2 linked regions of the Homo sapiens genome follow. The protein of the gene in region 1 purifies or fractionates together with the protein of each later gene. This does not show direct contact. Each region holds a gene or a part of one and is shown in the gene's direction. Other genes may lie near its edges.

Region 1 (3,652 bases):
GTTCTGGAAGCATAACATTTTGATTAAATTCAGGATTGGTTTTTGCCATGTTCACATTCACAGATAATATTATGGCTTCAGAGGCCGGGCGCGGTGGCTCATGCCTGTAATCCGAGCACTTTGGGAGGCTGAGGCGGGCGGATCACGAGGTCAGGAGATCGAGACCATCGTGGCTAACATGGTGAAACCCCGTCTCTACTAAAAATACAAAAACTTAGCTGGGCATGGTGGCAGGCACCTGTACCAGCTACTCGGGAGGCTGAGGCAAGAGAATGGCTTGAACCCGGGAGGTGGAGCTTGCAGTGAGCTGAACTCGCGCCACTGCACTCCAGCCTGGAGGACAGAGCGAGACTCCGTCTAAAAAAAAATATTATGGCTTCAGATTCTGTCACTGTGCAAACTTTGGAGGTTGTTGGGAGGCCCCTGAGTTGGGTCCTGGAGGAGGAGGTCTGCTCCTGGCACAGAAGCTGTGTGCTGGGTCGAGCCTGGCCTCCATCCCCTCACCCGTGCTGATAGTAGGCACTTGCGTTTGGAAAATCTGAGAAGTCATTCTCTCATCAGAACAGGAAACCATTGCTACCTGCCTCTCTCTTGTAATGATTTCTCATATTGTGGAAATTACTGAAGTAATTCCCTGAGGCCTAGGTTATGGGGCTCAGGGGAACTCCTCATTTCCCACGTAAATTTTGAAATATAATTAATCATTTTCTTAAGAGAAACAACCACATAATTACATTCATTAATTATTTGCCTTAATCGTAGTTGTTCATCAAAACAAGAAATGTTTTAGAATTGAAAGACGCACACACACGCACACATGTACACACACACACATGCTCATTATAAACCCTTTAGAGTGGGGGAAGCTGAGGCCAGGAGAAGGCGCAGCCTCTCAGGGCAGGGCTGTGATGGAAACTTCTAAATACACAGTCCCTTGGCCAGGCACATGCCTGTAATCCCAGCACATTGGGAGGCCAAAGAAGGCAGATCACTTAAGTCCAGGAGTTGGAGACCAGCCTGGGCAACATGGCAAGACCCTGTCTCTACAAAAAATACAAAAATTAGCAGGGCGTGATGGTGCATGCCTGCAGTCCCGGATACTTGGGCGGCTGAGGTGGGAGGATCACCTGAGCCCGGGGAGGTCGATGCTGCAGTGAGCCGTGATCGCACCACTGCACTCCAGCCTGGGCAACAGAGCAAGACCCTGTCTCTAAAACAAAACAAAAGATCCTGAAGGCCGATTTTCAAGCTGCATTTATTCCAGGTAAAGCTGACATTTTCCATGTTTTGCTGAGAACCTTCTCCCCTGGTAGCTCTGCCGAAGCCTGTAACAGTTCAAAATGCTACTTCTTCTATCAGGGAAGGAGAAGGGACTTATAGTGAAGGGGGAGCTTTTCTTTCTTTCCAAGGGACTTTCTTACCTTCTTGAAAAGTCAAAAGGTTTGTGCTCCCCAGGCACCAAGGACCCAGAGGCGGCCGAGTGAAAGGACGCCACCGCACCTGGGCATGAGATGCGTAAAGCGTTAGTACAGGAGAGTAAACCCTTACGCAGGCTGAAAAACGCAGCAAAACAGACAGTGCAGATAGTTCCTGTCTGCCAAAAGGAGGTGTTGTTTTTGATCCTGATTTCACTCTCATAAGCTGTGGAATTCTGTATCCTTATAAAGAAATGTAATTTGAAAAGTGAGGATAAGTAAAGCAGTCTGATCTGGAGAAAACCCATGTGTGTATGTGTGTGTGTGAGTGTGTGTGTATATGTGTGTATGGGTGTGTGTGTGAGTGTGTGTGTGTGGATGGGTGTGTGTGTGTTTGTGTGAGTGTGTGTGTATGTGTGTGTGTGGATGGGTGTGTGTGTTTGTGTGTGAGTGTGTGTATGTGTGTGTGGATGGGTGTGTGTGTGTGTTTGTGTGTGTGTATGTGTGTGGGGGGCGATGGGTGTCAGTAGAGCTTTCTTTTTGTGACAGTGGAACAAGGAAATTGCTTCAGAGTGAGCAGGGGCAGCTGCCGGATTTAGAAGATGTATTTCGCGTGGACTTTGGGAGTTTAAATTGCATTCACAATGCATGTTTTCACCCCTTTGAGCCTTAAGTTTTGCTTTCCATAGGTACAACAGTTCCCTTTCTCTTCTTTCCCTTCTCAGTCCCGGCTGAGACAACAGGACATCGGCCTGAAGACCCACCTGGACCAGCTGGACCTGCAGATTAGCAAGCTGCAGCTGGATGTGGGCACAGCCTCAGGGGAGGCCCTGGACAGCGACAGCAGGCCCAGCTCAGGTACCAGGGCGCCCTGACCTCCCGGACACAGGGGCAGGCACGCAGCACAGGCAGAGGTGAAGCCTATCCCGCCAGCCCCTCTTGGGCTGAAATTCCATTCCAGGTATCCTAGTGTCCGTGCAGGGAGATGGCCGCTTCGTCAGGCTGATCTGAAAGTTAGGAGGCAACACTGAAGCCTTTCTCAGGGCATATATATTAATTGGCTACCTCGCTCTTATTTTTTTAATTTGCAAAAATCACATTGTGGTCTAAGTGACGTTATTGCACTCAGGAGGCCTGTGGCTGAAGCACCTCCCCAGACTGGTCTCCTCAACTTGGCAGGCACCAGGGAAGAAAGAGAGAGACAGGGGCCAGAGGCCTGTCCTAAAAGGGCTGAAATCCAGAGGAAGAGGCCACCTCTTAGGCAGGCATCGACCACCCAGGACTAAAGGCACCACTTGCCAGGAAGAGGGAGGGCCAGGGCTGCAGAGTGCAGGTGGAGTGGGCTCTGACCAACCCACTGGCAGCTCCTGGGAAGAATCCTGAACATTCTCACCTGAGCCACTCTCTCCCAGGCCGGCCGTGTGGACGATGGCACACAGCCTCCGGTAGCCTCAGCTCAGGGGTTCCCCTGGGCCCACCTGTGCCGTGACAAGCTCAGGAGGAGAGGGGGCCCTGGGCTTTTCTGGATGGGGGTCACTGACCTGCCTTGTCTGCTCCGTCCAGGCTTTTACGAGATGAGCGACGGTGGATCCTGCTCCCTGTCCACGTCCTGTGCCTCCGTCTGCAGTGACCACATCTCTCCCTCGCTGGGCAGTTTGTTGCCTGTGGCCCAGGCCCACAAGGCCAGGCCCAGCATGGGGGACTGGAGGCCCCGGTCGGTTGATGAGACTACTGTGCCAGCGTGGAGACCCCAGGCTACCGAGGAGGGCGCCAGGCCCCCAGGGAGCGTGGAGGATGCAGGCCAGCCGTGGGGCACATTCTGGCCCAGGCCTGTGTCTACAGGTAAGAAACTGCCAGGGAAGGTGGGGGTCTCATCTCAGGCACAGGGGATGGCAGAGTGCAGTCCCCAGCTGCTGAGGGCAGAGCCGGGGACCCTACACGGAGCACGCTGTCAGGCTCTAAGGGACGCTGGAAGGCCTCCGTGGGCCACGTGGTGGTTTGGATGGAGGCAGGAACCAAATGCGGCTGTGCGCATCACCACCAGCTCTAATAACACACAGCACTTTTCCCTGTATTTAAAATGGACATCAGCAAGCTTAAAAAAATCCTTCAAAAACCCTGGATCCACTGGTGTTTGGAGTGAGAGTGGGGTTGAAAGCGCTGGTGGGGAGAGAACCGGGCTCACACCTGGATCCCACCCGCTGGCCCAGGAGGGGCTGTAGTTGTCTTCAGACTGT
Region 2 (3,652 bases), on another chromosome or scaffold:
GAGTCTCACTCTGTCGCCCAGGCTAGAGTGCAGTGGCGTATCTTGGCTCACTGCAGCCTCTGCATCCTGAGTAGCTGGAATTACAGGCGTGCACCACCATGCCCAGCTAATTTTTTGTATTTTAGTAGAGACGGGATTTCACCATGTTGGTTAGCCAGGCTGGTCTTGAACTCCTGATCTGAAGTGATCCACCTGCCTTGGCCTCCCAAAGTGCTGAGATTATAGGCGTGAGCCACCACACCTGGCCTGTATATGTCAAGTTTTAAGAACACATATTAATCTCATTTAGTTGTACATAAACTGTGTCTTAGAAGGACACTGTAGAAAATCTTTCCGCAGCTCTAAAAATGGATTAAGGTAATGACTAAAAACATTTATTGGTTTATTTTTCATCTTTAAAATGTTTGCATCAAAGAAAAATAATATGGAATAAATAATATCTAGTGATTTCCCTGATGTCACAATATGCCATTGCTTTTTTACAGAGATAGACTCTCTGCTAGTGACATGCTCCAAGTCCGAAAAGTTATGGAACATGTTTATGAAAAAATTATCAACTTGGATAATGAGTCTCAAACCACTAGCTCTTCTAATAATGAAAAACCAGGAGAACAGGAAAAAGAAGAAGATATTGCTGTGTTGGCAGAGGAGAAAATTGAACTTTTGTGCCAGGACCAGGTAAGTGGACTTGAGGACTACAGCCCCAATTTTTCCAGTGCTGGTGCTCATAAAGAGTTACATGCCTTTGGGTGGGGGGCTTCTACTTTTAGAGGGGCTCTAAGGAGCCCTGGGCCTCTCCTACCTAAAGCCCACCCTAAAGCTCCTCTTTACTGCTGGGGAGATTTTCAGAGAAGGGATACATAGACAAATGTGGATGTGCTGGTAGCTTTTTTTTCTGACAAGAAAAAAGACACATGGTCTTCTTGATTTGCAAAAAGCATGTGCCATGTTTATGATTTAGAGTGAAGGTGTGCGGAGAAATGGCAGAACTGTTTTTTAAATCAAGATGCACTCAAAACGTATCCTCAGAGGAATGGCTGAAAGATGGCCTGGTGTTTCTGGCATAGTCACAAAAGATGTACATCTCACTAAGCTCAATTTCATTCCCGCATGCATGGAAGCCGTGACAGCAAGAATTGGATACCAGGCATAGGGGAGGAGTGAGCAAGCTGGATCACCTGATGAGAGTCCCTGAGTTAATGATAAGGTTTTAGATATTAGAGACTTTGAAATTTTTAAATTTAATTTTGGCTATTCAGGTTTTGGATCCAAATATGGACCTTCGAACAGTGAAACACTTCATATGGAAGAGCGGTGGAGACCTCACCCTCCATTACCGTCAGAAGTCCACGTGAAGGCTGGGCTAATGCTCCTGGATATTCATTTACGACCTTCCTCTATGGCCCCAAGAGTAGTCCTAGGAAGCCCACTGATCCCCAACGGGAGCAAGACTTCTAACGGCTGATTGGTATGGACCGAGATTATCTTTCAATTGAAGTGACTAATCGAGATGTAATATAGAAACCAGTCTCCATGTGTAGATTAAGCTGTCCCCAGGGAAGCAGAGTGCAAGAGCAGAAGAGCCCCAAGCAGACTATGTCTTTCAAGATGTACAGAAGACTGACAACAGGCCAGTGCAGACTTTGCTTCCTCCTTTTGTTTCAAAGGACCTTATCTACCCATTAACACTTGTTAGAGACACCTCAGTCGGGCCACAACTGTCTCTGTTTCAACTTTAAGCCCACACACTCTGTAGCTTTTCTAAAACAGTACATTCCATTCATGCAGTAGATATGAAGGCTTTTTCCAAGTTTGTCATATAAAGTAATCAAATTGTTTTCACCGTTTAAGACAGTTATTTTTAATGGGAATTTGCTGTTGCACAATTTGAGAACCAGCCCATTTCATAATAAAAGATTAATGTTGGGCTTGTTGTTAATATTGCATCTCAGATGTGTTCTTGTAGGAAGATCTGTTGAAATTCCAGGTGCTGGATCATAGCACTTGGACTGTTGGGCCGGAGTTTGTGCAGCCCATGCCTAGCGATGCTGCACCTCCCATGATGTCCTGGCTTTGTGGCAACCCCAGGGAGGTGCAGCAGTTTCACTCCTTCCTCCACTGTGTCCAGTTTTATTTACACAAAGCGAGCTGAGACCACAGGTTCTTGCTCTGGATGAGCAGCATGACACCATCAAAATTTAAGACCATGATGAAATTTCAGTTTCATTCAAATGTTACCTAAAATTTATGGTGTCAGAATAAAGGGAGATCATAGTGAGTTAATTTGATATTCATATCCTGGAAGTATACATATTTGTTTTTCCAAAGTTTTATATGCAGGTTTTTGTTGTACCTGTATCCAGATCTTCTTTTCACTGTTCTAACAATCTAACACTTTCATAGAATCATTTGGATCTTGTATAGAGTGTAACTTATTGGGGATAAACACTTCAACTTTTGGCAGAAAATACTTTGGATTCTCCCCAAGGTCATTTGTATTCAGAGTAAATCAGTGGTCCACCCCCATAAAACTGTAAGACAAGCCTCCTGTATGAAGCCAGAAGCACAAGTGCCTTCAGAGGGCAGTTGATTCCAGTCCAGTTGCCTCCCTAGCTTGTGTGTGGCCTGCCTCCACCATAGCAGGGACTAGGGAGGGAGGCAGGGAACGTTTTTTCTTTTCTACATCTTCACAGGTTCGGCTGGGGGCAGCTGATAGGCCTAAGGCCATACCTTACTATTTAAGATACTCTGATCGCACAACTGCAGAGACAGGGTTCCCTCACTGCTAGTCAGCTTCTTTTGGAAACTGGACAGGCCATTGCCACCTGCACTTTGAAGAAGTGAGCAAAGACGTGGCCACATTTCTAATAAGTTGAAATGGTCTTTCTCCCTTCCTCAGAGAGCAACCAGCTTCTTTTTTTTTAAAAGTCCTTTCTATCTGTTGGATACAACAGTGTGCTTTTGGTGCACATTTTTTAGCAATAGTTGTGAATTAATGGCAAAGAAAAAAAAAATTATTTACCAGCCCTCAGTTGTGTTTGCCCGAGGGGCCTTTGAGCAAAGAAATGGGTTTTGCTGGGTCATTTTGCCCTGTGTGCTAAGCCTTGGGTGGCTGCATTCCCCTCCTGTCATAGATCTGACCCCCAGCATGATTGTATTTCTTTCCCCTCCAGTCAAACCGTAATACAGTTTCCAGAAAATTCGACAGTCTGCAATGCCAAAAGGGTAAAAATCTGTATTTCACAGTTGTATAGAATAAAGGCTTTAGTTAAAATATTTCAAAGTGTAGTACACATTTATTTTCATTTGTTATTTTCTTTCATAGCAGATTACAGAGAAAGAAAGAAACCTCTGGTTTCATGTTCTCCCTGGAAATATTAGCATTGATACCCATTTTATCCTCCAACTTATGGGGGAAGGGAAAGTAAAAGTGAGGGAGGGAAGAGCCAGAACCTTTGGGTGAGGGCAACTTTGGGTCAGACTGCCAGGCTACAGAGTTAAGGGAAGCTGGCCCCAGAACAGTCCTGTGGCGATTCTGTTCTACTTCCTGCATTCCAGCAGACTTGACACTGGGCTCCCAGACGATCCAGGACACAATGCCTCACTGTTATGCACACGTATCAGCTGCTCTGGTAGGCTTGACAAGGGTTTG

The links. Proteins that work in one complex are often made in the same cells at the same time.
Region 2: the proteins of DACT2 (region 1) and WDR48 purify together in Homo sapiens (affinity purification with mass spectrometry; one large-scale study listed by BioGRID and IntAct). This does not show direct contact.

What each region holds. Positions count from the first base shown.
Region 1 is NC_000006.12:168,309,773-168,313,424, reverse strand, and holds part of DACT2 (dapper homolog 2), read left to right. Parts: intron 1-1,154; exon of another isoform or gene 1,155-1,264; intron 1,265-2,140; coding exon 2,141-2,273; intron 2,274-2,978; coding exon 2,979-3,257; intron 3,258-3,652. UniProt on the Homo sapiens protein: Involved in regulation of intracellular signaling pathways during development. Negatively regulates the Nodal signaling pathway, possibly by promoting the lysosomal degradation of Nodal receptors, such as TGFBR1.
Region 2 is NC_000003.12:39,093,389-39,097,040, forward strand, and holds the end of WDR48 (WD repeat-containing protein 48), read left to right. Parts: intron 1-485; coding exon 486-678; coding exon of another isoform or gene 679-864; exon of another isoform or gene 865-1,259; coding exon 1,260-1,355; 3' UTR 1,356-3,276; downstream 3,277-3,652. UniProt on the Homo sapiens protein: Regulator of deubiquitinating complexes, which acts as a strong activator of USP1, USP12 and USP46. Enhances the USP1-mediated deubiquitination of FANCD2; USP1 being almost inactive by itself.